4 separate regions of the Homo sapiens genome follow, and all the other regions are linked to region 4. Evidence: fine-mapped expression QTL. A gene starts in region 4. Each other region holds a variant in brackets. All regions are shown on one strand. Distances are from middle to middle.

Evidence for each region. PIP is the estimated chance that this variant, and not a neighbour inherited with it, causes the effect. A credible set is the group of variants that fine-mapping cannot tell apart.
Region 1: its variant is the best candidate, but not a certain one, in a credible set for the expression of SNX25 in tibial nerve (GTEx, PIP 0.78).
Region 2: its variant is the best candidate, but not a certain one, in a credible set for the expression of SNX25 in prefrontal cortex (ROSMAP, PIP 0.56).
Region 3: its variant is the best candidate, but not a certain one, in a credible set for the expression of SNX25 in whole blood (INTERVAL, PIP 0.51).

The regions. Positions count from the first base shown.
Region 1 is chr4:185,340,195-185,348,301 of GRCh38, reverse strand. It overlaps SNX25 (sorting nexin 25), which reads right to left. Exons shown (of 19, transcript NM_001378034.2): 12 at 6,186-6,326; 13 at 1,652-1,765. LOC124900827 (a long non-coding RNA gene) reads left to right here and starts at 6,315. Exons shown (of 3, transcript XR_007058416.1): 1 at 6,315-6,391. RefSeq lists enhancers at 5,998-6,117, 6,498-6,547. The variant T/C (reference allele first, on the strand shown) is at 4,020.
Region 2 is chr4:185,931,909-185,940,015 of GRCh38, reverse strand. It overlaps a transcript of SORBS2 not described here. Among named protein-coding and RNA genes, the nearest start is that of SORBS2, 120 kb to the right of the region's middle. The variant C/T (reference allele first, on the strand shown) is at 3,830.
Region 3 is chr4:185,263,352-185,271,458 of GRCh38, reverse strand. SNX25 (sorting nexin 25) reads right to left here. Exons shown (of 19, transcript NM_001378034.2): 4 at 6,849-7,021; 5 at 4,304-4,490. Among named protein-coding and RNA genes, the nearest start is that of SNX25, 58 kb to the right of the region's middle. RefSeq lists an enhancer at 5,080-5,581. The variant A/G (reference allele first, on the strand shown) is at 3,385.
Region 4 is chr4:185,206,188-185,214,284 of GRCh38, reverse strand. SNX25 (sorting nexin 25) reads right to left here and starts at 4,687. Exons shown (of 19, transcript NM_001378034.2): 1 at 4,030-4,687. The coding sequence starts at 4,458. It also overlaps a transcript of CFAP97 not described here. RefSeq lists an enhancer at 86-405 and silencers at 3,879-4,068, 4,139-4,298, 4,409-4,988.

The DNA of each region.
Region 1 (8,107 bases), 130 kb before region 4:
TTCAGAACATTTTTTTTCAGTCTCAGAATGTCTAGCTTCTACTGCAGAGGCAAAACATGTTTTATGAGGCAAAGTTCCATGCCTCTGAGAACTTCAGGGCTTTAAGATCCAAAGTGTGATTAACAATTATACTCTGAATATAGATGGTGCAGCAAAGGAAAAAAAAGTGGTTGTTATTGAGGACAGTACACCTTTGGCCTTATTATTTAAAAACAGACTGATAGAAAATAATAAAGTGTTTAAAGGAAATTAAGAAAATATCTTCAGGGCCTTGGAGTAGGCCAAGATTTCTTAATAGGTGCAAAAGGCATTAACCATAAGATAAAAAAAATGATAAAGTGGGCTAAATTAAAATTGAGAACATCTGTTCATTAAAAGCAATCATTAAGTAAAAGGCAATCCATAGAAAGGGGGACAATATTTGTAGCACGTAAGATCTGACAAGGAACTCAGATCCAGAACATGGACAAACCCATAAAACATTATGGAAAGGATGAGCAGCAGCACAATAGAAAAGGAGACACAACAAATGGCCGGGCACAGTGGCTCACGCCTGTAGTCCCAGCACTTTGGGAGGTCGAGGTGGGCAGATCATCTGAGGTTGGGAGTTTGAGACCAACCTGACCAACACGGAGAAACCCCGTCTCTACTAAAAATACAAAAATTAGCCAGGCGTGGTGGCAGGCGCCTGTAATCCCAGCTACTTGGGAGGCTTAGGCAGGAGAATCACTTGAACCCGGGAGGCAGAGGTTACGGTGAGCCAAGATCGCGCCATTGCACTCCAGCCTGGGCAACAAGAGCGAAACTCCGTCTCAAAACAAAACAAAACAAAACAAAACAAAAGAAAACAAAAAAAAACACCAAACCCCCCAAACACAATGAGATACTACTACACCCAAAATGGCTAAGAATAAAAACGCAAAAGATAAGTGTTGGTGAGGATGTGGAGCAATCAGAACCCTTACACACTGCTGGGGAGAGTATAAAACTGCTGTGACCATGAAGAAAAATGGAGAAATCCTAATCTCTGGGCATCAGCCGACAGATATTTGTCAAAAGACAAGTACTAGACGTTTATATAAGCACCCTTTGTAAAAGCCTCAGAGTGGAAAGGAGCCAAAGGCTCATCAACAACGGAATGAATTTGGAATGCAGTGTATTCACACGATGAAAACCTCTCACAGCAACGAAAATGAATCATCTACAACTAAGATGACAGGATGGATGAGTCCTATGAACATAATGAGTGAAAGAAGTCAGAAACGAAGGAATTCACACTATACGGTTCCATTTATATAAAGTTGAAAGACAACTGTAACTGATCTATGGTGCTGGAAGTCGGGACAGCAGTTGCCTTTAGAGGGGCTGCAGCGATGGGAGGAAGCTGGGGGCTGCTGGTGATAACCAGTGCATTGGACTGGGTGCTGGTTACATGGGTGTGTTCAGTTTGTGAAACGGAGACAGTTATACACTTACGTGTATTTTTATATGTGTATTTTCCTTTAATTAAAAAAAACACCCAAGATATTTTTTTAGCATCTAGCATGGCTTGTGAGAACAAAAAGCAAACTACCAAGCTCGTAGAATGATGACAGTTTAACCCTAAATAACTAATTTTTTCTCTCATATCCCACATTTTTCACTTGCTTACCTGTAAAAACTTATTTAATTGATTCTTCGACTTTTCCATAAACTTTTGATCTATAGATTTGAAAGGCAGCTTGCTAAGAGAAGGCAACTGGACTTTTTTTAAAGAAGGGACGCACTGTGGGGGGAAAAAATGAAATGTTAGTATTTTGAAATTACATTTTAATCTTAAAAAAGATTTAGAATAACAATTAGAACAAAACAAATATCCTCCTCCTGTACTTGTTCCTCTGAGGTGAAAACCTACCCATCTTAATGAGGCTCGAAGAATTGGGAGGAACGGAAACTTTGATGGAAAAAACTAAAGCACATCCCCAAACCTACAGATCCCCGGGAGCTGGGAAGTCACAAGGCCAGGCTGGTACGAGGGATCTGCACACCACGCAGGGTGGCACATGATGTGACAAATGGAAACCTGGCTCACAGAAAGTTTTTCAACTAGAAGGTGTTGTGTTTTTAACATCTCTGTAAAAAGCTAAAGTTAACAATAGAAAATGGCCGGGCGTGGTGGCTCACGCCTGTAATCCCAACACTTTGGGAGGCCAAGGAAGCTGGATCACATGAGGTCAGGAGTTCAAGACCAGCCTGATCAACATGGTGAAACCCTGCCTCTACTAAAAATACAAAAAATTAGCCTGGCGTGATGGCACATGCTTGTAATCCCAGCTACTGGGGAGGCTGAGGCAGGAGAATCGTTTGAACCCAGGAGGTGGAGGCTGCAGTGAGCTGATGTTGCACCACTGCACTTGGGCCTGGGAGACAGAGTGAGACCCAGTCAAAAAAAAATAAAAAGAAAAGAAAACAATGGGAACAAAGAAAACTTGGGTTGTAGCTCTATTACTGCATTTCTTTCCTTTTTTTTTTTGAAACAGGGTCTCAGTCTGCCACCCAGGCTGAGTGCAGTGGCGTGATCATGGCTCATGGCAGCCTTGATCTCCCAGGCTCAAGCGATTCTCCCACTTCAGCCTCCCAAGTAGCTGGGACTACAAGCATGCACCACCATGCCTGGCTAATTTTTAAATTTTTTGTAGAGGCGAAGTCTATGTTGTCCAGGCCAGTCTCAAACTCCTGGATACAAGCGATCCTCCTGCCTCAGCCTCCCAAAGTGCTGGAATTACAGGCATGAGTCACCACTCCTGGCCTTATTACTGCCTCTCAGTGGCAAACTGTAGATTGTAAGTATATTAACAAAATATATTCATAGTACGAAGAGCGCACCCTTTGTGGATTAAGTCCTCCCTTCTACCAGACACTGTGCTAGAAGCATAGCATGTGTTATTTCATGCTTACAACAGCTCTGTGAAATTTCAGAGAAATGAAACAGGCAGTGAGAGTTGGAAGGGAAGACTAAAATCACTAAGTACCCAAAAAGGTACTTCCTGTCACAGCTGTCGACAGGAAGGGTTCTCACAACAGGAAAACTCACACCGTAGGAAAGGGCAGGGGTAAGAGAATAGCCCAGCCATCAGTCCACAGACGAGGAAAGATGACAAAGAGGACGGGCATGGACTTTCATGTTTGTTTCTTTTAATGCTTCCATCTAATTGTTTTGATTGTCTAAGTAAATTCTACCTTCCAAAGACATTTCATTTCAAAATTTTCCCTCAACTCTTTTTCCTCCTGTTTTGATACAAACTTTGGTTTCACAATAGTTTTTCCACAGAGAAAACAACACATTTTTCTGTAGTATCAATTTTACTCAACAACTCTGGGGAAAATTCATTGTTATACTGAGACAAATTTTTGCTTTCCACAGTGCTAAGGTGACCAAAGGCCATCTGAGAAATGTAGCATGCATGACATTCAGTTTGGGTCACTATCCTTAAAAAGCAGTTGAAGAAATTATAGTATGTAGTGATGAAAACAGGTTAAAAAATCACTCTGGAGACAAGGTTAAAGAAAAGAGACACATTTCATTCATAGAAGAGGAGTCTGAGAGGTGCCCATGAGGTTTTGTAAAGGAGCAGCGTGGCTTCAAACCGTGTTTTCAAACTTTGTTTTCCTTCCTCCTTCCTCCTTAATCTCAAGATGTAACTTTGAGACAGGCTGCGTATGTGTTTCCTTTCATTCTGAAATACAGCCTGGGCATCTGCTGTGAACCTCCACTCCCTTTCTTTCCCCATCCCGTGCTCCCATGCTTTATGCACACTGATTTACCCACATGCTTGTTAAGCGCACACCACGCTCCTTATCTGGTCATCTATTTCCTTAGAAGCTTCAAGGGCCAGATCCTGATACGGACCAGACACCTCTGGCCACAGTGGCGCCGGATGCTTCACCAGATGGAACAATAATTCAAGACGAGCCATCAGGGCAGATCACACCATCTGACACTCCCTAGACCTGCTGCCTCTTCTGCATTCCAAACCCTC[T/C]CTTTAAAATCCCCTGGGTTCCCTCCACAGTTGAAGGCTGGAAATTTTTATTTTTATTTTTTGGAATGGAATCCTGCTCTGTTGCCAAGGCTGGAGTGGAGTGATATGATCCTGACTCACTGCAACCTCCGCCTCCCAGGTTCAAGTGATTCTTTTGCCTCAGCCTCTTGAGAAACTGAGACTACAAGCGTGCACCACCACACCCAACTAATTTTTTGTATTTTTAGTAGAGATGGGGGTTTCACCATGTTGGCCTGGCTGGTCTCGAACTCCTGACCTCAAGGGACCCGCCCACTTCGGCCTTCCAAAGTGCTGGGATTACAGGCGTGAGCCAACATGCCTGGCTGAGGGTGGAAAGTTTTAGAAAGAATTTTGCCCACTCCTCCCCTTGCTAGCATGGATAGTAAAATCTCACTCTCTTTTTGTCACGCCTCACTCTTGTTATTATTATGATGGCTTCTTTCTACAAGCAGCAAGCAGCTGGACCCTTTGACAGTTATAGTTTCACCAGTATCAGTTCACGCTAAGCAAGAGAAAAATGGACCTAAATTCAAGTAGAAATAATTGAAGAACTGTTCACTGCTGGGGAAAAAAGGCAATGACCCATAGTAGAAGGAGAATTAGAGAAGATGGCAATTCCTGAGGAAAAGTAGGAAGAATAATCTAAAAGTAAGATTCCATTAATAATCTTGATTTAGCCACTATGTACATGTCCTATGACAAGTCAGTTAAGCTCTGGGATCGGTTTCCCTCCTCTCTCAAATAAAAGAATTAACCTAGATTAGTGGCTTTCAAACATTTTAACTGAAACTCACAGTAGGAAATGCATGCTACATTGCAATCCATAATGCACATACATATATACATATACATAAATAAAACTGAAACCAAAGGTCTATGAAACAATGCTCATTACTACTGCTACTACCAAAAAACACAATGATGTTTACTATGTGCCACACATTCTTATAAATGCTTTATATACATATATTCCCTTAATTCTCATAACAACCCCATAAGGTAGGCACTATTAGTATTCGTTTTCACTGATGAAAAAGAGACAAAAAGCAAGTGAGTGATAAATCCCAGGTCAGCTGGGCAAGGTGGCTCACATCTATAATCCTAGCTCTTTGTAAGGCCGAGGTGGGTGGATCACCCGAGGTCAGGAGTTCGAGACCAGCCTGGCCAACATGGTGAAACCCCGTCTCTGCTAAAAATACAAAAATTAGCCGGGTGTGGTGGCACATGCCTGTAATCCCAGCTACTCGGGAGGCTGAGGCAGGAGAATCGCTTGAACCTGGGAGGCGGAGGTTGCAGTGAGCTGACATCACGCCACTGGACTCCAGCCTGGGCGACAGAGCAGGACTCCGTCTCAAAAAATATATATATAAAAATAAATAGATAAATAAATAAATAAATTCCAGGTCACACAGCCATGAAGAGTAGAGCTGAGAGTCAGAGCTGAGCAGTCTGGTTCTAGAGGCTGTGCTCCAAGCACCGCACCTTACTGCCTCCCTTGTATATGTGATAGAATCCTCCAAGCACCGCACCTTACTGCCTCCCTTGTGTATGTGATAGAATCCTCCAAGCACCGCGCCTTAATGCCTCCCTTGTGTATGTGACAGAATCCTCCAAGCACCGCGCCTTAATGCCTCCCTTGTATATGTGATAGAATCCTCCAAGCACCGCGCCTTACTGCCTCTCTTGTGTATGTGACAGAATCCTCCAAGCACCGCACCTTACTGCCTCCCTTGTATATGTGATAGAATCCTCCAAGCACCGCACCTTACTGCCTCCCTTGTATATGTGATAGAATCCAATGCAGCTCATTCTTTCTACTGCTGCAACTCACAACTGATTTCACTACCATCAAGATATCACAATCGGCAGCTGCCAGTTGTGAGATACCTAGGTGATCCTTAGGTCTCTTCCAGCTCTAGGGTTCTCTGGCAATTTACAATGAAAATCAGACCGTTATCTGTCCTGATGGACTTAGGCTAGACTAGATGGTTTGATCTATGAGTAAATTTCCAAATGTCAGGATGAAAATGCCACTGTGCCAGTATCAACAGCAAAGGAAGAAGATTAATCAGCTTTCTTATGTGTAAAATTGAAATGAGCTCTTGTGCAGTAATTCTAGAATACTGCGTTCATGAGTATTCATACCTCACTGAGTTTCCGGTGTAAATTCTGAAACTCGCTGAGCCTTCTGGGGACCGTCCAGTTCTTAGTTTCAACTCCTCCAACTTCTTGTAGGCTTACCATGACAAAGTAACATGGCAATTGCTCACCATTCTCTTCTGTAACCTTGGGGAAAACATCAAAATCGATACTTACAAAAAGCATGGTGAATGGATGCAGAAGGAAGATCTGTAAGTGTCCCCCTAAGGAGATTTCCCTCCCCGTGATGTACCTTGCAGGATCCCTGGAACTGTGAATATTATAGATTTTATTCTAGTAACTAAGATACATTATATGGCATAGTAGACTAAAATAGGGGGATTTCCTGGGTGGGCCTAACCTAAAAGCAAAGAGTTTTTGCTAGCCAGTGATACGAAAGGAAGTCAGAAAGATTCAAATCCCAAGAAGGAAACCAGCAAGAAAACAGATATCTCAGTTCTATGACCAAAGGAACTGAATTCTGCCAACAATCTGAATAAGCTTGGAAGTGGGTTTTACTGAGTCTTCAGACAAGACTTTAGTCTGGGAAACATACTGACTTCGGCCTGTGATACAATCAGCAGGGAGCCAATGCATCCTGTGCTGGACTCCAGACCTACAGAGGTGTGACCAATAAATGGGTGTTGCTTTAAGCATGAAATGTGTTACACAGCAAAAGAAAACTATACAGCAGGCTCATCCTGTGTTACTTTGAAAAGAAATTAACAGCAAGCAAACAGCCATCAAATACATCAGAAACTCTCTCAGAGAAGGATGGGGGCACCTCCAGTTTAATTTCAGGATCCAACAAGCCCTGATTTCTATTCTCATTAAATTTTACATTGGGAGATATAATTTCCTTTACCTCCCAACTGAGATATTGTATGTGTGCATGCGTGCACACGTGCACATACACACACACTAATCCAGAATAGGCCACTACTATACTTAACATAAGAAGCTAAGAGAAAACAATAGAAAATACATTGAATTTGAGCTTGAATTAGCATCATAAATTGAATGAGAGAGAAGGAGTCAATAAGAAAGGCCAGGGAAAGAGATGAGAGGTTTACTGAGCACCCACTCTGTGAGGCAGGATTACCACCCCACTGTAAGGATAGGGAAGTAGAGGCACAGACAGGGTCCCTGACTTTCCTAGGACCACACCTCTGATGAGTCAGCTAGCACAGAATACAGGCACGTCCAGCTTGATGAAAATGCATCCTCCGCACCTTTCTGGGACTGCTTCGTGAGCTCTAGACGTCAGGTGCCCCTTTCCCATTTCCACTATCTTTTCACCAGCCAGAGTGCTTCAGCAAGCAGCAACTGACGGCCAGGGCACAGACCCTTGTGATGGTTTCCACTCCTTCCTTCCCTTTCTGCTCCCCCTAATATCTGCCTTTGGAAGATGATTTTAATACACTGTGAAGTGTCAGGGCCAGCTCTAAGCAAAACTGAGGAGGTAACAGAATTTGTATTCTGTCCTCCAGCAGCCTCTTGTAGCAGCTTTTGCCATTACATTCCCCTGAGTCCATTACCTTCCTACAGTTCCACCCAAACAGTAACTATCTGCAGTTACTGAGGGTTTCTATGTGGGAGTCTGAGGCTGGGCATGACCTTCCCTGATCCACTGCTCTCTGCCTTCCATGGAGAAATGTGTATTGTTCAGCAGCTTAGCTTAATGGGAGCACCAGCAAGTGCCAAAGACATACAGAAGGCACCTGGTTAGGCCCTCATGTACTGTGTGTCCCTTCAGGGTAGGTCTTGGAGAACATGCTTTGTTTTGCTATCCAACCTAGAGATAAATTTAAGGTCGTGAATTTTGACCCTCTCCCAACCCCTGTAAGAGTGTCAAGCCACTGGCTTGAGGGAAAGGCAGGGAAGAACAAAGATAAGCCATATTAAATACCAATGAGGACAAAAAAAAG
Region 2 (8,107 bases), 730 kb before region 4:
GAAACGCTTCAAGAGGGTGCGGCTCATCTGGGTCAAATGCTACCAAGAGGTCAAGTAAGAAGAGAACTCTGGACAGACATCTGGATTTGACAAGGTGGAGAGTGTTGGTGACTATGATGAGAATGGTTTCACTGGGGGCATGGGGATGAAGGGCTTTCTGGAGTTGATTCTGGAGACAGTGGATGGGCGTTAAGAAAGTTGAGACAGGCCAGGCGTGGTAGCTCATGCCTGTAATCCCAGCACTTTGGGAGGCCGAGGCGGGCAGATCACGTGAGGTTGGGAGTTCGAGACCAGCCTGACCAACTTTAGGAGAAACCCTGTCTACTAAAAATACAAAATTAGCCAGGCGTGGTGGCACGTGCCTGTAATCCCAGCTACTAGGGAGGCTGAGGCAGGAGAATCGCTTGAACCTGGGAGGCAGAGGTTGCGGTGAGCCGAGGTCGCGCCATCGCACTCCAGCCTGGGCAACAAGAGTGCAACTCCATCTCAAAAAAAAAAGAAAGTTGAGACAGGAAGTGCAGATACCTCTTTGGAGAACTGTTCCTGGGAAGGAGAAGGGAGAAATAGAGCAGCAGTCAGAGAGGGACGTGGGCCAAAGAACACACTGTTTTTTGGTTAAGGTGGAAGTATTACAGCATATTTGAATGCTGATGGAACTATTCCAGTGAAGAGAAGGAAACTGATGATCCAGTGGGATATTAGGAACAATTGCACGGAAGAATTTGTTGAGGAATGGAAGAGGTAAAATACACTGTTGACAATGGGTCAGTTTGTCTGATGAGAGAAGGATGGACAGTTCAATAAAATGAGAGAGGAGAGAAATTTAGGTAAAATGGTGCATTCAGGGTGAAAAATAAAGTAATTTTTGTCAGAATACTTCTATTTTCTTAAAGTATATAGCAAGACCATCAACATATGGCCAGGGCGCAGAGGTTAAAGGGCTGAACAAAAGATAAAAAGGCACTGAGTATTCCTTTAGGAGAGAGAACAGGAGTATTTATCGGGAAATCTGTTAGAATCACCAGGCAGTTTTAAATACTGATTGAGCCGCGTAGTGATGTCTTTAAAAGTGAGACCCATCAGCACATTTGCATCCTTTTTCTTTGTTGCTTTCGTGCTTTGAAGCGGACATAATGTAGTTAGAGGGTTGAATGTAAACAGACTGGTGTATTGCCAGGCATGTGTACAGGGGGAGAATAGAGGAGCAGGGGATGAAGGCAGAATATGAAGGGACATTTGCACTGGTGGGTTCTGGCCTCCAGGCTGCTGGGGGGGAAAGCAGTTGTGGGGAGTGGTGCTGACAGGCGGGAAACTCATAGGGTTGGTGCACTGGGGTTCTCGGGGAGGTGGAACGTAACCAGAGTGTAGATACTAGGATAAGTTGCCTGGAATGATCAGAGATAATTATCAGAGTGGATGCTTTCCACTGGGATCTCAGAAATGGTCAAGTCTTGGGTGATGAATGGTGAGATTACAGAGAGCTTTGACACGCAGGATAAGAAGTTTGAGTTCTGATCTTCCTGAGCAAGTTGTTCAGTCTGGAGTTTGTGGACAAGTTTTAGAGCATGGAACTAGAATAAAAGGGTGTGTGTGTGTGTGTGTGTGTGTGTGTGTGTGTGTGTGTGTATGTGTCTACATTTTTCTGGGTGAGAGGATCCTAGGTTCCCCTAGATTATCAAAAGAATATCTGAACTACAAAATGTTAAGAATAATTTCTTGGTCAGGCGTGGTGGCTCACGCCTGTAATCTCAGCACTTTGGGAGGCCGAGGCGGGTGGATGACCTGAGGTCCGAAGTTCGAGACTAGCCTGGCCAACCTGGTGAAGCCTCATCGCTACAAAAAATACAAAAATTAGCTGGACATGGTGGCAGGTGCCTGTAATCCCAGCTACTCACAGGAGAATCACTTGAACCGGGAGGTGGGGGTTGCAGTGGGCCGAGATCATGCCACTGCACTCCAGCCTGGGTGACAGAGCAAGACCCCATCTCAAAAAAAAAAAAAAAAAAAGAATGATTTCTCTAAAACCTAGGAGGCAGGCAGCCACTGACAGTCTCTGAACAGCAGTAGTGGTGTGAGCTGCTATTTCCAAAGATGACACTGAGTTTGAAGGGGCAGAGAGGAGAAGATATTCCAACTCTGAAGAGATGTGTAATTCTCCACTTACATAGCACAGAAAGGAGTAGATGCTGGAGCCGACTCCACAGCACAGCACCTGTGGGGCTGGATGCCGGTCCCTGCTGAGGCAGCATCCCTCTTCACATCATTCTGTGTTCATTGCTTCCTCATTCCTCATTTCCCCCTCCCCTCCACTTCCAGCTAAAATAAAGTGGTTTTAATGAGGCATCACTTGGTGAGCTTTCGAATCAGGAGCCTGTAGGAGGACTGAACCAAGGATGTAGAGCCCTGCTAAATGCATCTTTCATCACTTTGGGGCAGGAGGACAGACCTAGAGGTACTTTTTGACGAAGGATTTAGTGCATTTGTTCCTGGGCTCAGGAAATATGGAGTTCTCCACTTCTGAAGTTAAGCACTTTAGTGCCCATCAACCTTAAGATTGAGGCATTATGGTGTCAATAAAGAGCAAAAATCTTGGATTCAGATACATGGCTAAGCAGCTACTTCATTTCACCCTAACAATAGCTCTGTTAAGAAAAATTGAACCTATCTCACTGTAAGAGTAAATAAACAGAAGTTTCAAGAAATTGCCTCACCCACGGTGAGACTGCTAGTACAATGCAGAACTTGATATACTTTTCAAAAGGTCACATGTATTTCTCAAAGCGTAGGAAACATGCTCCTCCAGTTCTCGTGAAGCACTCACTCACTCACTCACTCACTCACTCACTGGCAGAAGCACGAGATGAATGAGTTTTCCTTAAAATCGGGTTCAAGCACCAGGCTGACAGGAAACCATGTCATAATTAAAATCAGTCAATGTCATTGTTGAAATAGAATGACTTGTCATTCAAGAAGACAATTCTGAGTGGAATTTCAATTACATTTGGAATTAAAATAACTGTGCTATGTAATCTTTTAGAAGGTAGTCCTCTTACTGTCTAAGAAGCTGAATTTATTTTTTAAAACATTCTAATTAGGCATTCTTGAGGAATTTCCACCTTCAGTGAAACTGACAGCCCGTGCCATGCTGTGCCGTGCCGTGCATGCTGTGCTGTTGGTAGTGAGAGCAGAAGCTGAGTGTGGGAGGTGAAAGGAGACTCTTGCATAGTCTTAGAAGCAGACGGAAAGGGAAATCTTCTGTAAATTGCATTTCTAATCAACGTGATGACCATGTTTTCTAGCCCTAAAATTGGGACATGTGACTTGACAAAGAGACAGAATACTCAAAACTGGGAATGATCAGAAATATGGGATTTATGGTTATCACACTATTATCAATGGTGGCAAGGGTCAGCTTGAAGAATTCAGAATTAAAATTTAGATTAGATTTGAGGAAATTTACTTTAAAAATTAATTTCTGAATATGTCACACTTATGAACATTCAATTCTCTGTCTTGAAAGCTTCCCACCACCTCCTTCTCCTAAATATCCTGTTTGTGAGTTCCCATACGTACTTTATAACTTTGTGTAATTGATGGTTTCAGTACCCATTGCCTATGTGCAACTGCATTCAGCCTTTGTAGTTTTGGAACTGAGGATACTGCCCACTCTCAGTTGGCCATCAATAAATATTTGTTGCAGGGATGGAGGGTGGGTGAAACTGGAGCCAACCAGAGCCAGGATAAACCATGTGCCTTGGTGCTTTTCTTGTGAAGGCTTTATATTTACTTCTCTTCGCACAACTAAATATGGGACTAAGTTTGAATAGCA[C/T]GTGTCTCCTCATTGAAAACTTACCGTTGGCCAGGTGCAATGGCTCACGCCTGTCATCTCAGTAGTTTGGGAGGCCGAGTCGGGCTAATCACTTGAGCTCAGGAGTTCAGGACCAGCCTGTCCAACATGCAACATGGTGAAACCTCATCTTTACAAAAAACACAAAACTTAGCCAGGCATGGTGGTGCACACCTGTAATCCCAACTACTCAGGAGGCTGAGGCAGGAGAATCACTTGAGCCTGGGAGAAAGAGGCTGCAGTGAGCCGAGATCATACCAATGCACTCCAGCCTGGGTGACAGTGAGACCATGTCACAAAGAAAAAGAAAACATACCTGTTCACTACTCTCCCACTTAATTTTCAAAGGCAGCCTGTGTCTCTTTTCCACATTCTCCCATGATGCTCTGTGTTACCAACTACGGCTCTGATTGATTATTGGTGTCTCTGTGGAGAGTAAATCATGTTTTCCACCCATATACATATCTCAAAAACAGCCCACCGTTCTAGGTTTTAACTGGACAGCTTCAAATTGGTGATAATTAGCCCTATCAATACCCTAGTTAAAGTTGGTATGTCTAAAGAACTAGTTCTTGGGTACTAACAATGGCTACTCATGGTAAAATGTTGGCCTTTTGGTGGAGTTTGTTCTAATGATCTAATGTCTTAATATTGCTATAGCACTTGGAATAGTGCTGGGACATAGTGAGAGACATTTTTGTGTTTGCCATTATCTTGCTTTATATCTCAACAAGCTTATGGGGGCAGAGAAAACTGATGCAAAAGTCAAGGAGTCTCTTAAACGTGTTATCTCCCATGGCTTAGTTTTGAGTTTCTTGTTACAGATAAGTGATATTTAAGCATAAAATAATAAATTTAAAATGTGGTATTGATAGCTGAGACTCAGCCCCTTTATGGTGGGACAGAAGCTTGTGGAAATAGTAGATACTTGGGATTGAACCCCTTGTGCCTTAAGGACCAGAAAAACTTCTCAGTTATTGAATTTGGATCGGGTTTTACTAACTGATACATTGCCTATTGGTTTGTGGGTACAAACTGTGTTTCTTTGGATTTTTCTTAAGAACTGGGGAAAGAGCTACATTAGCCTTGATTGTTGGCTGATTTTGATATCTGTAATGATTTGACTTGGAACAGAAAGGCAGAACATATTTCATACATAGAAGGTACTATCCAAAACACCTAAAGTGCAAATTATGGAGAAGCGACCTGACTCAGTAACAAACTATCCCGAAGAGCCATGATCAAGCATCTTCTCCTTGAGCAGTCTAGGGATGCACAGAGGGGGCCACAGAACAGTGTTTAGAAAGACAGACCCCGTCTTGAGTATCTGATTAGAGTTGAATGTCAGCAACTGCCTTGATTTCTCTCTCATTTTTTTTTTTTTTTTGAGATGGAGTCTCACTGTTGCCCAGGCTGGAGTCCAGTGGTGCAACCTCAGCTCACTGCAGCCTCCGCCTCCCGGGTTCAAGCGATTCTCTTGCCTCAACCTCCCACGTAGCTGGAATTACAGGGGCCCGCCACCATGTCTGGCTAATTTGTTGTTGTTGTTGTTGTTGTTTTTTGTATTTTTAGTAGAGCTGGGGTTTCCTCATGTTGGCCAGGCTGGTGTCGAACTCCTGACCTCAGGTGATCCACCTGTCTCGGCCTCCCAAAGTGCTGGGATTACAGGTGTGAGCCACCGTGATTGACCAAAATTTTTTTGTTCTTTAATATGTAAAATCTCATATTGCTTTGTGGAAGGGTGAGAGTTTTCTAAACAAAAGCAAATTGGATGCCTTTATTCTAGAAGGGTGTCTTCATTCTGTTTCACTGGTGAGTGCAAGCCTTTGCGTGGCAGGGACAGTGCCTTATTCATGTTTTATCCTGAAGGGCTTACAGAGGTCACGCCATGAAGAGCGGTTCTGAAAATCATCTGTGGAATGAATAAATGAATGAAAGCAGGAAAGGCTCTTGTCCTCTAGATTGTTATTCAAACAGTGTTCGAATTGCTATATTATCCAACAATGGCATGCGGGAAAAGACATGAGGGTTAAAAGAGAAATCAGTCAGCAAAAGTGCCAACCAGAGAGGGACTTTAAATGAAACCTACTGGGAAAAGTTGACGGATGTGTCTTCCCTAAAGATTTTATTTTTTCCTATGGGGAAAAATGCTTTGAAGGAAAGACTTTTGATTGAGAACAAAACCACAGTCTCTGGAAAGTGTGCAGCTTAGCAGGCCATCTATAGAGAGACTTTAAAGCCAGTTGGAGGTCAACTTATGTTCCTAAGCTCTGTAATCTTTTCAAGAAGGGTCTTCATATCAGGTGGCCTACTTTCACTGAAATGCCACTGATATTGGCTAAATTCTGTTTCCTTTCCAATTCATATTCTGAAGTCTTAACCTCCAGTACCTACGTATGTGACTTTTTTTGGGAAATGAGTGGCTGGTAAATTAACAGATTAGGTAAGATTAGGTCATTTTGGAGTGGGGTGGGCATTTGATCCAATATAAGTGGTGTCCTTGTTTATAAAAAGGGGAAGTTTGGACATGGACACACGCGCAAGGGGAATACCGTGCAAAGATGAAGGCAGAGATCCAGGTGATGCGTCTACAAGCCAAGGAAGCCAAAGACGGCCAGCAAGGGGAAAGGCAAGCAACAGACTCTCCCGCACAGCCTCAGAAGGAACCAGTCTGCTATAACCTTGATCTCAGGCTTCCAGCCTTCAGAACTGTGAGATAATGCATTTCTCACAGGATGCATTTCTCACAGGATGTTTAAGCCATCCTGTCTGTGGTACTTTGTTATCACAGCCCAAGCAGACGAATAGACCCACAGATGATTCAAACACTGTTGTACTTTAATGGTTACTGCAAAATACCACAGTTCACGATGATTCTACAGCGATACTCTAGAACTGCTGTAACGTTCGAGTAGACATGAGATCACTGGGTGGATTGTGTTTTTACCAACATATGAAACTGTAATTATCCATGAGCACCGTACTGCCTTTGGAGACACTGCTGGGACTGTGACTCAGACCTCCCTTGAGACAACTGGTCATTAGGAGTCACAGTGATGTGGAATCAACTTTGTCTTTCTGAAAAGCTGGAGATATTCATCATAGCCTGGACTGCCTGGGATCTACATGTTTTCTCCGTGTTGTAATGATGTGAAACACTTTATTAGCAGAGGAAGACATTTTTAGGAGAAGCATTTTGAATCAGAAGGCTTAAGAAGAATTCTGCTTTTCTCGTGAGTATCAAGTAGTTGATTATTGAGAACTGAAAACATTGTAGAAGGATAATTTACAAAATGACCCTTAAACATCTGCATTTATCATGGAAGATAAAAGTCTAGAGAAACTGTTTTTTAGCTGCTAGGAAAAGCTGTGTTTTCTTCAGAGGGTAAGTCATAGAGAAGGATCATGGTGTGGCCAGGGCAACCGAGCCCCAGGGGGGCTCATCCGCTTTAGGCCAGGCCCTGCCTACAGCAGTTTGCAGAGGCTGGTCTCAGATGCTTGCCAACAAATACAGCCCTGCAATGCAGTGACATTGCATTCCGGCAACTCTCTGTTCTCTTCATATTTTCTCATAAAATCTTGGCTCTGGCTAAAGAGAAAATGCCGTGCGGTAGGCTTAGCTCCTTAATGGTGAGGTGTTGATTTGGTATAGGTCTGTTTTCAGCCAACCCAGTACTTAATGTGTGGGGATTTTGTTGTTGTTAATGATAACAGTATTGTCTGGCCAAAAAATCATCCTTGCCATCCAGAAGTAAGACTATCATCGAATCACGCCACTTCTGCTTGCAGACAAGCAGCAGTGGACATGTCAAAACCGTGTGTGGTTATTAAAAGTTGACTTAACACCCTACTCTCTACCCTCCACTGTCCTTTGCAAGATTTCTTCAGTATATCAGGGGATCCATCCTTTTTTCCCTCCACTGCCCCCTTCGTAGCTGCCCCTCTGACAAATGCCTCCTAATCCCGCAAGCATTGCTGTTCAGCTGCTTCTGAGTCAGCTCATTTCCTCATGATCTTGGGGCCCCTTCCTCCAAGTGGTTTACCAAGGTGTGTGTTTATTATGTGTATATAATAAACACACACATATATAAATAAATATATAATAAACACACACACTAAATATATATCTGTATCTATATCTATATCTATCTATATATATATATATAGAGAGAGAGAGAGAGAGAGAGAGACAGGTTCTTCCCTTAAGATGTACTCTAGGGCAATCTCATATAAGAATTCTTTTCCACACACTTTTACTCA
Region 3 (8,107 bases), 57 kb before region 4:
TGGCCAACATGGCAAAAATTAGGCGTGCTGGCGTGTGCCTGTAGTCCCAGCTACTTGGGAGACTGAGGTGGGAGGATCGCTTAAACCCGGAGGCAGAGGTTGCAGTGAGCTGAGATTGCTTATAAAAGGATGCAACCTAATTAAGTCTGAGAATGTATCCCTTTTGCCTCTAATAGACTAGTCACCTGTCAAGCTCGATTATCTAATCCAAATACCTCCAAGTGCCCTTCCCACTGACTCTGCAAACTCTGCTGGAAACACAAAGCCTAGTAGTAAGAAGGAAGACAGAGGAATATACAACATACAGAACAGGAATAGTGCACAAAAGGAATGCACCTTCCTGGTGCCTGTGTCCCATCACTCCTTGGCAGCGGTGGGTACGCTGTGGCAGGAGGCCATACTAGGAAGAGGTTAGGAACTGCAACATTTTATTTTACTCTCACTTGTAAACAGTCACTGACAACGTCACTGAAGATGCTCAACGGTCACTCAAAAGGCATCCTTTAAATGGCAGACAATCCAACTTGCCCATGGACCGGTGAAAGGATAAAATGTGCTATATTCATACCATGGAATATTATTCAGCCAAAAAAAGGAATGGGGCACTGATACATTATACAATGCAAATGAACCTTGGAAACATAATGAGTGAAAGCAACCAGACACAAAAGGCCACATACTACATGATTCCATTTACATGAAATGTCCAGACTAGGCAAATCCATAGAGACAGAAAGCAGACTGGCGGTTGCCAAGGGCTGGAGGGAGGGAAGGAATGGGGAGTGACTGCTAGTGGGCACAGGGTTTCTTTTTGGGGTGATGAAAATATTCTGAAATTACATAGTAGTGACAATCAGAGTCTCTGAATACACTAAAACCACGGAATTGTACACTTAAAGGTGGTGAATTCTATGGTACGTGAATTATATCTCATTTTCAAAAGGTATTCTTCAGTTTAGCACTTCTACTGCCTCTTAAGTCCCTCAGTGCTCAAGACCAAAGGGCCTGCTTCCCAGGGCACCCAGGTGCTATCCCTTTAATCTTGCCCTATTTATGACGTCAAGAGGAAGCGATCTTTGAGAAAGATTAAGGGCTCACACTATTTTTGTTTCATCACATAGTAGCAGGGAAAGGAAAAACATAAAATCAGAACTTCAGTGTAATCTTTGGTCAATCAAGTTAAGGCAATCCATGATGTGCCTACTGCAATAAAAGTAAGCTGTTCAATCATCCTGGGGCAGTGTACACCATAGTTTTATTGTTTTTTATTGTAGAGACGGGGTTTCGCCATGTTCCCCGGGCTGGTCTTGAACTGCCAGGCTCAAGCAATCTGCCCTCCTCAGCCTCCAAAAGTGCTGGGATTTTTTTTTTTTTTTTTTGAGCTACTTCTTTGTCTACCAGATGATGAACTGTATATAGTATTTAAATAGTTCTGAATCTTTGGCTGGTACATTTTGAAGAAGATAAACCATTAATTCTTATCAAGATTCATTCATCTTACAATACAGGAACTGTGTTAAGATACAAAATAACAGATGGTGCTAGAGAACCAGTGGTAGATCATTCAAAATAACTAGTTCTGATTTTTAAAAAATCAGGAGCTCGCCTGTAGTCCCAGCTACTTGGAAGGCTGAGGGAGAGGACTGTTTGAGCCTTAGAGTTTGTTTCCAGTGTGGGCAACACCACAGGACCTTGTCTCTTAAAAAACAACAACAACAACAAAACAACAACAAAACTCTGATGCCTTTCTGTTTCCTCCATTAACTATTAAATACATCCCTATGTGCAGTGCTGGAATCTTCAGTTTGGCACACAAAATAGAACACTCATCCACAAGTCTGTAAGAACAAGGAATACTGATTCTCTTAATCTGCCACTATTGACTCTAGATTGTTATCTTAAACTCACTTGGGGTTACCAAATAGTCCACACCTGCCTTTACTGTGGAACGACTATTTGGTCAAAGAAAAATGCTCAGGAATTCAATGAAGCCACAAATTATCAACATGAGTTATCTGTTCATAAACAATGACTTAGGAAGAATTTATAACGTTGTGGGGCATAGTCATCATGTCACCTTGTCACACCATGCACAGCAAATCCAGGAACAGCAGGCACGAAAACACCAGGTAGATGAGTATTCGAGTATAGGTTTGAATAGCATCCCTACAACTAGAGTTTGGGGTGTGTGTGTGTACGTACAGTTTTAGGGAGAGGAGAGGCAACAAGGGTGTTCTACCACTGAGCTCTTTCACTTTTATAGAATGATGCTTTAAAAGGAATCGAAGGACACTATGATAAGGATGACTTGAGTGGATGTAACCTGTGAGCCTCACATAACAAACCTGGAATACTGGCTCTTGGGTTCTAGCTCAAGCATCACACTTACGAAAAAGAAATGTCTAGACTCAGACAGAAATAAAAACAAATCTATAAAGAATATCATGTAGTCTATTCAAAATTATGCATGGCAAGAGAAACATTAAATCTCCAGATATTACATCAGATATATATTATACCCAAAATTAAATTCCTTGTAAACAAATCCATTTACATTGAACTCATCATTATATATTTGAGTATATATTTGTAAATTGAACCCGTCATTATGTATTTGAGGTATGTATTTGTAAATTGAAGCTGTCATTATGTATTTGTGACACCTAGATTAACACATGACACCATGTATAAGAACACAGTGCCATCTACGTCTATGCCTCCTTAGATGGTGCTTTATTCGAATCAGAAAATTAAACAGCATGAGTCATCTTAATGTTAACCCTAGTTCAAAAGCAAATGTCACAAGTTTAAAAACCTCGACTAATTCAAACACCCAATTTCAACCAATATTTTACTTTTCCATCAGGGTTTTACCAAAATTATTAATGAAAAGCAAAATGAACATATAAGAGTTTTCTTTCTTTCCCCTATATTATCATTTGGGAACATTAAAAAGAAGGGTAGAGAAACAGAAGCCTAGAAAATTTACAAACTAGATAATACTATATAATCATACTAAATGTGTATATACTATTAAAAATACACAAAAATACACACCCCCTAAAATATCTCAGGTATAACAAGGGACACTGTGCTCCCCTATAAAAGATACTCCTATGGTATTTTCAAATGTGTTTTCTCAAAATAATTAATCTAGAACCTCTTATTCCCAAACCCAAGCCTCTGTACTGTCCAAGACAAACAAAAACCAACACAATGTTCTACTCTGTAATTTGAAACACATCTTCTCCTTCTGATGTCCTTCCAGTGCTTTTCTAAGGTAGTCATCTGAGCAGCTAAGCAGGTACTCCCGACATCTGAAGAGCTTTCAGTCTATTATAGCCTCATTACAGCTGACTCTTGAAAAACATAGGTTTGAACTGC[A/G]TGAGTCCACTTACACAGGATTTTGTTCTGCCTCTGCCACCTGAGACAGTAAGACAAACCCCTCCTCATTCTCTTCCTCCTCAGCATACTTCCATGTGAAGAGATGAGGATGAAGACCTTTATGATGATCTACTTCCACTTACTGCATAGTAAATATATTTTCTCTTTCTGGTTTTCATAATATTTTCTTTTCTCCAGCTTACTTTATTGTAAGAATACAGTATATAACACATATAACACACAAGATACGTGCTAATCAACTGTTTATGTTATTAGTAAGGCTTTGGTCAACAGTAAGGTATTTAGTAGTTAAGTATTTGGAGAGTCAATTTTTTTTTTTTTTTTAGAAGGAGTCTCACTCTGTCACCCAGGCTGGAGTGCAGTGGTGTGATCTCAGCTCACTGCAACCTCCACCTCCCAGGTTCAAGTGATTCTCATACCTCAGCCTCCTGAGTAGCTGGGACTACAGGCATGTGCCACCACACCCAGCTGATTTTTGTATTTTTAGTAGAGATGCGGTTTCACCATGTTGGCCGCGCTGGTCTTGAACTCCTGACCTCAAGTGATCCGCCCACCTCAGCCTCCCAAAGTGCTGGGATTACAGCACTTTTGAGCCACTGTGCTTGGCCCAAGTCAAATGTTATATGTGATTTTTGACTGGGGGTGGGGGCGGTGGGGAGCGTGGGTGCCCCAAATTGTTCGAGTCAACTGTATTTGAAAAACCTAATACTTTAAAAAAATTCATTCTAATTACACTGCTAAGGAGACGCTGGATAAATTTAGCTGTCACTAAATAGTAAGATTTATAGACTTGTTTTATTTCTGCTTCCCTGACAACTACTTTTTTTTTTTTTTAACCTAACTAGGCAGGGGATGATAATCAGTAGCTGTTGCTGTGCTATAATTGAAGACCAAATACCTTAGTTGCTTCAAGAACTCCACATCAGAGTTGCTGTTAATGAGCTTGATGAAGTCCTCGTAAGAGGGGGCATAGGTGTAGGCTCTCTTGTGATGCTCATTCATTTGCTCTCTGTACGCCAGCTGGGCAAGCAGCATTTGGTTAATGTAATCTGGATTACTCAGTAACTCCACTACCGGCTTCAAGACTACAGGAAGAAGAAGAAATAGCCACTGAGAAAGGTATTCTTCTTTAAGGGAACTGTTTATGTATCACATAACTGAGACTACATTTGGGAAACATTTTTCAAGTAGTCAAACAGGGGAATATCTATATAATACAATAAACAATTCAAAAATGTACACACATGCACACATACAGCTGCCTATCCCTCCAAATATGTTATCATCCATGGCTATAATCAAGTTGTCATTTTAATAAATAAGTGAAATGTAAAAGAATCATGAAGGGAAGTCATTTGGAACTCAAGTTGCTAACAAATCTATCAAAATTAAGGCCGGGCGTGGTGGCTCACACCTGTAATCCCAGCACTTTGGGAGGCTGAGACAGGTGGATCACTTGAGGTCAGGAGTTTGAGACCAGCCTGGCTAACATGGTGAAACCCCAATCTCTACCAAAAACACAAAAATTAGCCATGCATGGTGGCACATGTCTGTAATCCTAGCTACTCGGGAGACTGAGGCAGGAGAATTGCTTGAACCCGGGAGGCAGAGGTTGCAGTGAGCCGAGATCTCGCCACTGCACTCCAGCCTTGGCGACAGAGTGAGACTCCATCTCAAAAAACAAAAAACCACAAAATTACAACAACCAAAAAAACACTGATTTTTTTCTTTTACTTATTTTATAAGGCTCAATACGTTTTGACAAGCTTAGTCTGCCAAAGGATGAAAGTCAACATTCTCCCCAACTGGTTAAAACAGACCTCAGAGAGGAAGTTAAAAAGTCAATGACACTATTACAAAGCCATCCTTGTAACTTGAGATTAGAAACTTCCTCTCTTCTCTGTGGTTGGTTATAATAGCTGATGGGCACAGCTGGCTTATCCTGAGATAGTAAATGAGATAATCACTGCATCTCAAATGCAATGCTATTTGTCTGAGACTGAGATAGGGAAAGTTTCTCTTATCCTGACTAAGCATTTCCCTGGATATAGTTAACTTTTTTCTAGTAATCACATTATATTGTGGTACAGTTCCTTTTTACATATTCCAAGTTCACAAAATTATGTACAGTCATGCGCCACATAATGACATTTTGGTCAACAACAGACTGACTATATGACAGTGGCCCCCATAAGATTATAATGAAGCTGAAAATTTTCTACCATTTAATGAGGTCAAGCTAGTGTAAAGAAACCTATTGCACTGTCAATAGTATAAAAATACAGCACATACAATTATGTACAGTGCATACTTGATAATGATGATAAATGTTATTACAAAAGAGTCAAAAAGTTTAAAAAAATTAAAAGTTCATAAAGTAAAAAAAGTTATAGTAAGCTAAGGTTAATTTATTGAAGAAAATAAAATTTTAAATAAATGTAGTGTAGCCTAAGCGTACACTGTTTATGAAGTCTGCAGTGGTGCACAGTCATGTCCTAGGCCTTCACAGTCACTCCCCACTCACTCAGAGCAACATCCAGTCCTGCAAGCTCCATTCATGGTAAGTGTCCTATATAGGTGTACTGTTGTTTATCTTTTATACCATATTTTTACTGTACCTTTTCTATACTTAGATACACAAATATCATTGTGTTACTATTGCCTACAGTATTCAGTACAGTAATATGGTATAAGGTTTATAGTCTAGGAGCAATAGGTTACACCATATTGCCCACATGTGTAGTGGGCTATCCCATGTAGGTGTGTAAGTACACTCTATGATATTTGCACAATGACATTGTCTAATGACACATTTCTTCGGACACATCCCTGTTGTTAAGCAATGCATTACTGTATACGCATTATCAACAAATCATATAGCAAAGATATTTTAAGTAAATATGCTAATCAGAATTTGACTGTGGTCAGGGATGGTTGCTCACACCTGTAATCTCAGCACTTTGGGAGGCCTAAGTGGGAGGATCACTTGAACCCAGGAGTTCAAGACTTGCCTGGGCAACATAGTAAGACCCCCATCTCTATTTAAAGAAAAAAAAAAGAATTTGAACACACACACACACGTAATATATAAACATACATACTATGGATATTATATAGATATTATACACACATACACATACTTTCATTAATGTATATATTATTGGCCTAGATAACTCAAAAGCTATCCCAAATGAATGCTTCCCTGTGAAGAGCATAAAAACTTGTTTTCTATGTCAAAACATGCAACTTAATGGACTGTGCATTTGGCGATATGTCATATTAAAAATTTAAGTTTATCCTGAATGGCCAAATAGTTTTAGAGACATATAAACAAGATTTTGAAAATACTTCAAATCCCATATGTTCAACAGTAAACAAGGTCTGCATGTAGCACATTAGTTTGCACACTTATTGAATTAGTGAAATCAACTGTATAAGTCTACCTTTTGTTGTGAGAATTTCTGCAAGCATTATACGTAAGCTGAGAGACTGCACATCCTTTGAGGGGAGGAGACAAAACACCAGAACCCGAGAACACGTTTGTAGAAATCTTACTTCATCATCTGAGTTCCTCAAGCATGCGTGCAACACAAAAGGTCTTGGCTGTTCTTCATGTCTAAATAAAGAGAGTGAAAAAGAAGGAAAGAAGTTTCTAGAAACAATTCAATTATGTACTATTAGGTAAAAAATATTTCAAATGAGAAACACATTGGTTATAGTAACTGCCATCTCCTAAATAATCAAATTTCCTCAACCATCAACTCATCTGGAAAACTTTTGCTAGAATAAATGCAAATGCATGGCCTTTTTTGGATTTCAAATGAAATCATAACAACGAACTTCAGTAGCATCAAAGGGTCTATATAACTCCAAAATCACAGCAACAATCTAAAAAGGTACGAGTATTTATTTAGTAATTTTTAAGTCTTCTAGATGTTTTCTTAAATATGACCTGCAGCTTCATTTTTCAAAAAAACCTAACAAAGCATAAACCAGGGTTGCCAGCCTGCTTTCTGACTGGGAGATAATAGGATAAAAAGTCTACAGGTATTTCTAGTGAGCTAGAGGGTCTATAAACTCGACGTTATCTAATTTGATGGCAAATTGCCTTCTGTGAGGCTCCAAAGTATTTTTCAACCAGTCTTGACAACCTTGGTTGTGCACTTCCCTGTACTGACTCCATCCCAGGAACATTAATTTGGAGGATCTGAGTGAAGAGGACTGGAAAACAGAACTTTCTATACTTCCCTTCCCATAGTATCTTGATAGTGATTCAAGAAAGCCTGGGATGCTGCGTTTTCTAATATGTTCTAGATGAGGAGGCAAAGTATAAGAGATTTTTACAGTAACTAGTAGCTAACAATGAGAAAAAACATGAAGCAGAGGGAGAGAAACATACTAGGTACTGCACAGGAAATGAAACTAGTGCATATTAGTACCTTTAGGACCCATGCCTCTCAGGTGTTAACTGAAATTTATTTTGCACTGGAGACTGAAACTAGTTTCTAGAGTGTATAACGCTAGAAAAGAAAGGTTTCCTCTGTCTTGTACAACCTGAAGGAATTCTATCCTAATGTGTAAAGCCAGCAACATGAAAGGAAATTTTTAGAATAAGCCTTTATGCATATACTGATACGCTGACTTTTTAAAAATGGCATCTTCAATTATTTTAAACTCTAGCTTTGCTGCCAGCTAGGTTGAT
Region 4 (8,097 bases):
ATGCCCAGGACACCCAACTTCTGTGGACTTCTTGTATCAGCCCTCCAATCCTCATTGGCAACTGCCTATTTATTTTTTAACTTAGGAGACATAAATAAGAAGTCTCTAAGGGCTGGGCATGTTAGCGGGTAGATGAACTTGCCCTACAGGGAGAGTCTGCTAAAGGGGAGATAACAGGCTATATTTGCATTTCTAAAGGGGAAGTGGGGAACTGGGGGAAAAAGAAGAGAGAGAGAAATAATTAAACCATCTCTTAGGAAAGTAGGGGTACTCGGTTACATCACGGTCAGGCCACTGCACTGCAGTCTGAGCAACAGAGCGAGACCTTGTCTAAAAAAAAAAAAAAGGATCTAGTAAACCACAGGGTAAAAAGAAAAGAGAAAAATCTGTATTAGACTACACAACAGAAAAACTGACAAAGTTATTCTCTTTTACCTTCTTACCATCAAAACGTAAGAAATGGTGTCCTCTTTTCCACTGTGAGAAGATGTACTTTGAATTGCTGATCTTATGATGATAGTAAGTTTTTCTAAACTATGGATTCATTCTTGCCCTATTTCTCTTGCTGTTGTTTTGATTGGATCAAGTGCTGGGGTCAAGTAACTGTGGCTAGTAAATCTGAGGCTCAGACCCAGGTGAGTTAACTGGCCTGGCAGAAGATAGAAAGACAACCTTGGACACGGGACACCACACTCTGACAACCCACACAACAAAGCTGGACTCACAACTGTCAACCCCAACAGCAGGCTGGCCCTAGAGCATCACAGTTCCGCTCCGCTCTGCTCACCTGTAACAAGAGTCCAAGTTTTTCTAAACTGGGATCCAGATATCATCTGTCAAGACTTCAGCAACAACCTTCCTGACCTTCACAAAACCTTCTGTGCTATCTGAAGATACCACGGAAGTCTGGGATGAAGTTTCTATCTGAGATGAAAATTATTTTTACAACTTTAATCAACAGTGATTCTCATCCAAGTAAATCAAAATCCATGTACATAGGAGATGCTCAACAGGTACAAGCTCAATTGGAAGGGAAAAGCACTAAGTTAGTGACCATAAATGGACATAACGTTCTTCACCATCATCAGCGAACACTTCTTGAGCTCCTGCTAGGTGTAAGTGATAACAAAAGGTGTCAATTATAGGTCCTAACCACAGGCAGTTTACACTTGATAACTATTACACTATGAAGTATTCAGAAGCATTTGAAAACCTCTAGACATAAAAACACCCTTTCCCTTTTCAGTGAGGTTTCTCTAGTTGCCTATGTTTAACAGTGTATGCATTTTTTTCCTCTACCAAAAGAAGTCAAGAAGAAAAAACAAGGGAAGGAAGGATATACAGCTAGAAGGACTGATCCCAGTGTCTGACATGTCTAGCTCACACTAGGAGAACTCAAAATATATAAGGATAAATGAGGATTCTCTTCTTCACGCTGAATCCAAATTTGTGTAGCAGTCACTGTTATTCTAAGGAGCTCCATTTGGTTCACTGCTAAACAGCCTCCCCCTCCACATATGTTAGCTGACCTGTGTGGTCCAGCTCCCACAGCACTGACTGTAGATATTTTATACTACACCACATGCTTCTGCTTCCCACTCTTCCATTCATAAAGAAGAGAACATTTAAAAAGCACACACAGCCAGGCACGGTGGCTCACGCCGATAATTCTAGCCCTTTGGGAGGCTGAGGCAGGAGGATCACTTGAGGACCCTGTCTCTACAAAAACTTAGCCAGGCGTGGTGGCTTGCACGACAGAGCAGACCCTGTCTCAAAGCAAAAAAAAAAAAAAACACACACACACACACACACACACACACATCACACAAATTATTGGAAATACAGCACTAGAGGCTTGAGTAAACAGTACCAGTACTACAAAGAAAATAGAATTTTATGTGAATGACATGTATTTCAGTTCTAAGCAATATATAACTTAGAATGTAATTTCCTAATGCACTTAAAAAATTTAAAAAAAAATTTTTTTTTTTTTAAGAGGCAGGGTTAGGCCAGGCACAGTGGCTCACGCCTGTAATCCTAACACTTTCCGAGGCTGAGGAGGGCGGATCATTTGAGCTCAGGAGTTCAAGACCAGCCTAGGCAACATGGTGAAACCTGTGCCCAGCCCCTAATGCACTTAATTTCTTATTTAAGGCTATTTTAGGAATTCAAGGACAAAAATAATTACCAATATTCATTTTCCTTAGATTATACTTCCCCTCTTCTATTACCTGAAATCTTCGGGTAGTATTCATGAGAGATTTATACATGCTGCTTCATTTTCTCTGTCACCTTTAAAATACTATTTTCTCCAACTCCTCTACTAAACAATCTTTCTAGATGATAATCCACGTTTTACCTACCCAGAGGTGCCAGTGAGCTGGGAGATTTGCGGGAATGCATTTTCCAGGAAACAGAGTGCTAACCCACAACAGGAGGCTTTCAATGCCCTGGGAGATGGTCTGCAATACCAGGACTTTGATCTTGACCTAACCCTCTAAACTTCCTTCCCTCACCTACTAGTCCCTCTTCATCTCTTACCTCTTAATCACTGTTTCAAAAGCATTTATCACTATCCCACAGTATTTATTTATTGCCTGCTCCCCCATAAGATCTCCAGAGAGCAGGATATTTATGTGTCCTGTTGATTCAAACTCAGCTTCCAAAACAGTACCTGGCTCACACAAGATGCTCAATAAATATTTACCGAATGAATTATAACATCTTACAGTACTCAAGAACTAAGACATATTTTATTGATCAACAAACAAACTAGTAAAATCTCAGGGTCCTTACTTGCCATGGTAGAAAAAAAGAGGAGAGACATATCTGCTCCGCAACTCCTGCTAAATGAGATATGAAAAACGGATGGCTAAGTGGAGATTTTGTAAGAGAAACCAACTTTACTAATTTTTGAGACCACTTCTAAAAACAGGAGTTGCCTGCTCCTTAATATACTGCCTTGTTTATCAGCCTACTGAGCGAAATGTCTGTTACCTACTAATGCCTTCCGCCATTATCTCAGCGCTGCATTCTGAACTAACACACTCAGAGTAGTTTGGTGAAGTGTGGTGCTTTCTTTTAAAATAAAGGAGTGAGCAGGTCATGTGATAAGCAAATACAAACCCTGGGGACAAATGATCATTAACAAATATTCTTATGAAGTTGAGCCACTGCCATTTATCTTACCCCAAAGCGCTTGGGCAATTTCATTAGAATGATGGTATCACTCAGTCAAGCAGTGAGTGTTAAGCTGGGATAGAATAAAGTTCCCTTTAAAGGATTATGAGAAGGAATGTGGAAGAAAGATGGGGCAGTGGGTTTGGCACTGAAGAAGAGAAGCGCTCATTTAAAACACTGTTCTTTCCTACATTCCCTAACCCCCGCCCTAGTGTCCCACAGCGCGCTGAGGATGGCTTTCCTTTTGTTGCAAACCAGTGATTTCTGGCATCCCCCTTCCAAATCACAGAAGCCAGCGGGGACTGCACAACTATAATACGTATCCGCATGGTGGAAGGCAGGATAGGGTGGTGGGAAGGGTACGCGGGCTTGGGGGTGAGGCGCTGGGCCAGGGACCGAAGCAAGTTTCCTCATCGGCAAACGGTCATAAAGTTGCCTCCCACCGAGAACGGCCAGAAGAACCAAGCGGATCGCCAGGACCGTGCGCAGAGCCTGCACGTAGCGAACGCTGTGATTCCCTTCTTCCCCTCCCACGGCAAGCGACACCGAAGGTCTGGGGACACCCTTAGGGTTGTGACTGAGGATGGTTGTCGAGTGACTACAGAGCCCAGTAAATAACGCGCATCTCCTCCAGCACCGCGGAGCGCGGAGCCCGGAGCCCGGAGCCCGCCGCGCGCGGGCGCCGGGGAACGCTCGCGTCCACGGCCGGGCCCGCAGCCCAGCCCCCTGGCTCCCGGCTTCCCGCTTCGACAAGGGCATGCCGCGGCCCCCCGGAGCTCGGGGCGCGGGAGCTGGCACCGGAAGCGGGGAGGGCCGGCGGAGCTGGGCGGCCAGGAGTCGGGTACTTACCCCCGGCGGGCGGCGGGCGGCTGAGGTCGCGGCCAGCCGGCTCCAGGCGGCGGCGAAGTCGGGCGGCTGGGCGCGCGGGCTCCGGCAGACGAGGGCAAACAGGATCCCCAGCAGGAAGGCGGCCGCCGCGCAGCTCAGGTACAGGCTGAGCCTGAACAGGACGGAGCTCAGCCCCGCGGCCCCCGCCGCCTCCCCGCTGCCGGGCCCCAGGAAGGAGAGGGCCACGGCGGCGAGTGCGGCCACCGCCACGGGCTTCCACCAGCTCCGGCCGCCCGGGGCCCCCGGCGCCGCCGCTGCTGCTGCCTCCGCGTCCCCCGGGGACTCCGGCCGCCGCTCGCCCCTGAAGCCCGAGACAGGACGGCCGCCGGCGCCTGCGGCCCGCGCGGGGCTGGGGCCGGCGCCGCCACTGTCGGTCGCATCGGGGTGCATGCTGCTTCCTGGGCCGCTAAGGACAGGCACATCTCCTGCCCCCCGGTCCCCCGCCGGCGCTCCGGAGGCAGGGGGAGCCCGCGCTCATGCCTCGCCCGCGGCCCACCGAGGGAGCGGCCCCCGCAGACGCCGCCGGGCCCCTCTCGGCGACCCCTCAGCGCCGCCACCAGGCGCTGGGCCCGTAGCTGCCGGGCCGGGCGCAGCCAGGGAGCCCCACCGTGTTGTGACTGAAGCCTGGCCAGCCTGACGCGGGCGGGGCGGGGCCGCCCTGAAGTGCGTGTCGGGCGGGGCCCGGAGCCACCGCGGCCGCTGAGTGACAGCCGGGAGGCGCCCACCCACAGCGCGGGGGCGGGGTCCGGGCCGGGGCCCCACGGGGAGAGGGCGCGACCCAGCGCGGTGCACACCTCTCTTTCCCACGCTCCCCTCCTCCTCTACAGGATGCCGTCTGTTCATGGAAAATTTTGCTGCAGGTGTCAGCGGCGCTGGTAATTCCTGAGCTCAGGTGATCCCGTAATTCTCCCTCTCCGCTCATCACTGACGAGTAACCTCTTCGCTTTGCTTACAGCCGGCAAACATTTCTGCCTGGTTTTCACTCGCTATTTAAATAGGCAACCGTTCCCGAGACTCCCTGTCACAGTTTCTAACGACCTTCCCTTTCCCACCCTGCCGCCTTAGGGAAGGAATCAGACACGTGCGGTGGAGTAAGTGAAGCCTGCAATTCCTAGCTATGGAAAGGTCCAAAGAAGTCGGCCTGGTGCAACAGGGTGCACGCAGCTGCCCATAATCACTTTGGCTCCACTTCTGGTTTTTGTTTTGTTTTGTTTTGTTTTTTGTTTTTTACCAACTATTCAGTTCAAATGCTATCAGCCACGCAAAGGAACGTGGTCCAAATAATTTTTAGAGTATATATTTGCCTTTTCTTCTGTCATAGTCCCAGCCAGTAATATACAGATAACGCTTGCTAAGTAGATGCCAATATGCTACTTAAACACTGGCAATTACTGCTAAGACTAATAAAGAAGCAGATGTAGCTTTTGCTTTTAGTATCAATTGGTATTCATGGGCATTTCATTCTTTCTTTCTTTCTTTTTTTCTTTTTTTTTGAGACGGAGTCTCTGTTGCCCAGGCTGGAGTGCAGTGGGGCGATCTCGGCTCACTGCAATCTCTGCTTCCTGGGTTCAAGCCATTCTCCTGGCTCAGCCTCCCGAGTAGCTGGGATTACAGGCACGCACCACCACACCTAGCAAATTTTTGTATTTTTAGTAGAGACGGGGTTTCACCATATTAGCCAGGATGGTCTCAATCTCCTGACCTCGTGATCCGCCTGCCTCAGCCTCCCAAAGTGCTGGGATTATAGGTGTAAGCCACCGCGCCCGGCCTCATTTCATTCTTTCTTAAACCTTCTAAGTCAGAAATGAAGAGTGCCTCATGCTAGATGTGACTTTGCCATGCCAAGGGGATGATCAAAATAAGTTACCAGTTTCCTTTCTCCTCCTTTTTTAAGAAAATAGGGGCGGGCACGGTGGCTCACGCCTGTAATCCCTACACTTTCGGAGGCTGAGGCGGGCAGATCATGAAGTTAGGAGTTCAAGACTAGCCTGGCCAACATAGTGAAACTTGAACCCCGGAGGTGGAGGTCGCAGTGAGCCGACATCGCGCCATTGCACTCCAGCTTGGGCAACAGAGTGAGACTTCGTCTCAAAAATAAAATAAAATAAATAAAGCAGTATGATTAATTTTGAAGAAGCCCTTTTGCCTCTAAAATAGTTGTTAATTTTCACCCAATTGGAGCCCCTCAAAGTGTACCCTACCAACCCAAATTATTCAAATAAAGCACAGTGGCTTGTTATCAACAACAACCAAATCTATGTTTTTTGATCATTTACATGCCGAGGACTGTATTCTGAATTCTTTATGATAAATTTAAATTAATTTTTCAATTTTAGCCCTAGCTCACCATAATAGTAACTAACAGCACTTACTGTGTGCCAGATACTATTCTAAGGACCAAACATACTTCATTTAATCTTCCCAGCAACCCCGATGGATACCATTATCTCCATCTACACAGCGGGGAACTGAAGCACAGGAGGTAAGATGACATGCTCAACATTGCAAAGCTAATCAATAACAGAACTAGGATTTAGTTGTTACTCCATGTGGTCCAGCTTCAGAGCTTGTGCATTGAATCGCTATGCCATGATGCTTCCTAAGAATTCTCTGATTTACTCATCTCATATTACAGAAGAGAAAAAAAAAGGTTAAATTCTTGATCCTGATCTGCATTCCATGCTTAAAAGTGGATAGTTGGCCAGGCGTGGTGGCTCAAGCTTGTAATCCCAGCACTTTGGGAAGCCGAGGTGGCTGGATTACCTGAGCTCAGGAGTTTGAGACCAGCCTGGTCAACATGGCAAAACCCCGTCTCTACTAAAAATACAAAAAATTAACCAGGTGTGGTGGTGTGCGCCTGTAGTCCCAGCTACTCGGGAGGCTGAGGCAGGAGAACGGTGTGAACCTGGGAGGCAGAGCTTGCAGTGAGCCGAGATCGCACCACTGCACTCCAGCCTGGGCGACAGCGAGACTCCGTCTCAAAAAAAAAAAAAAAAAAAAAAAAAAGTGTGACTGGTTAAATTTAGGTGTCAATTTGACTGGATTGGGATTACCTGGAAAACTGACAAAGGATTATTTCTGGGTGTTTCCCAAGAAGATTGCCCCTGGGTCAGTGGATTGAGTAGGGAAGATCCACCCTTGATGTGGGCAACCGTCCAATCAGCTGTGGCCCAGAAAGAACAAAAAGGTGGTTTCCTCTGTGCCCTGAAGCTGGGATACACTCTTCTCCCATCCTTGGACATCAGAACTCCAGGCTCTGGCGTTGAGACTCCAGGTTACACTAGCAGCCTCCTGGGTTCTCAGGCCTACTGCCTCAGAGTTATGCCATCCTATTCCCTGGTTCTGAGGCCTTCAGAGTTGGACTGAGCCACACCACCAGCTTTCCAGGCTCTCCAGCCGGCGAAGGGTGTATCATCAGAGTTCTCAGCCTCCATAATCATGTAAGCCAATTCCTCTAATAAATTCCTGCTCATATATCTATCTATATCCTTTTGGTTCTGTCTTTCTGAACCAAGATTAGTACATCTTCCATTCTTTTTTTTTTTTTTTTTTTTTTGAGACAAGAGTTTCGCTCTTGTTACCCAGGCTGGAGTGCAATGGCGCAATCTCGGCTCACTGCAACCTCCGCCTCCCCGGTTCAAGAGATTCTCCTACCTCAGCCTCCCGAGTAGCTGGGATTACAGGCATGCATCAGCATGCCTGGCTAATTTTTTGTATTTTTAGTGAGATGGGGTTCATCGGGCTGGTCTCAACCCCCCGACCTCAGGATCTGTCCACCTTGGCCTCCCAAAGTGCTGGGATTACAGGAGTGAGCCACCATGCCCGGCATACATCTTCCATTCTGTCTGTCCTGCAGACCATCTTAATGTTGTTATGTGGACCAGAGGCGCACAAGTCATGGGCTGAATAATATTCCATTTTATGTATCTACTACATTCTGCTTCATCTGTCTGTTGATAAACAAACACTTGAGTTTTTTCCGCCTTTTGGCTATTCTGCTATGAACATGGGTGCATAAGTATCTGTTTG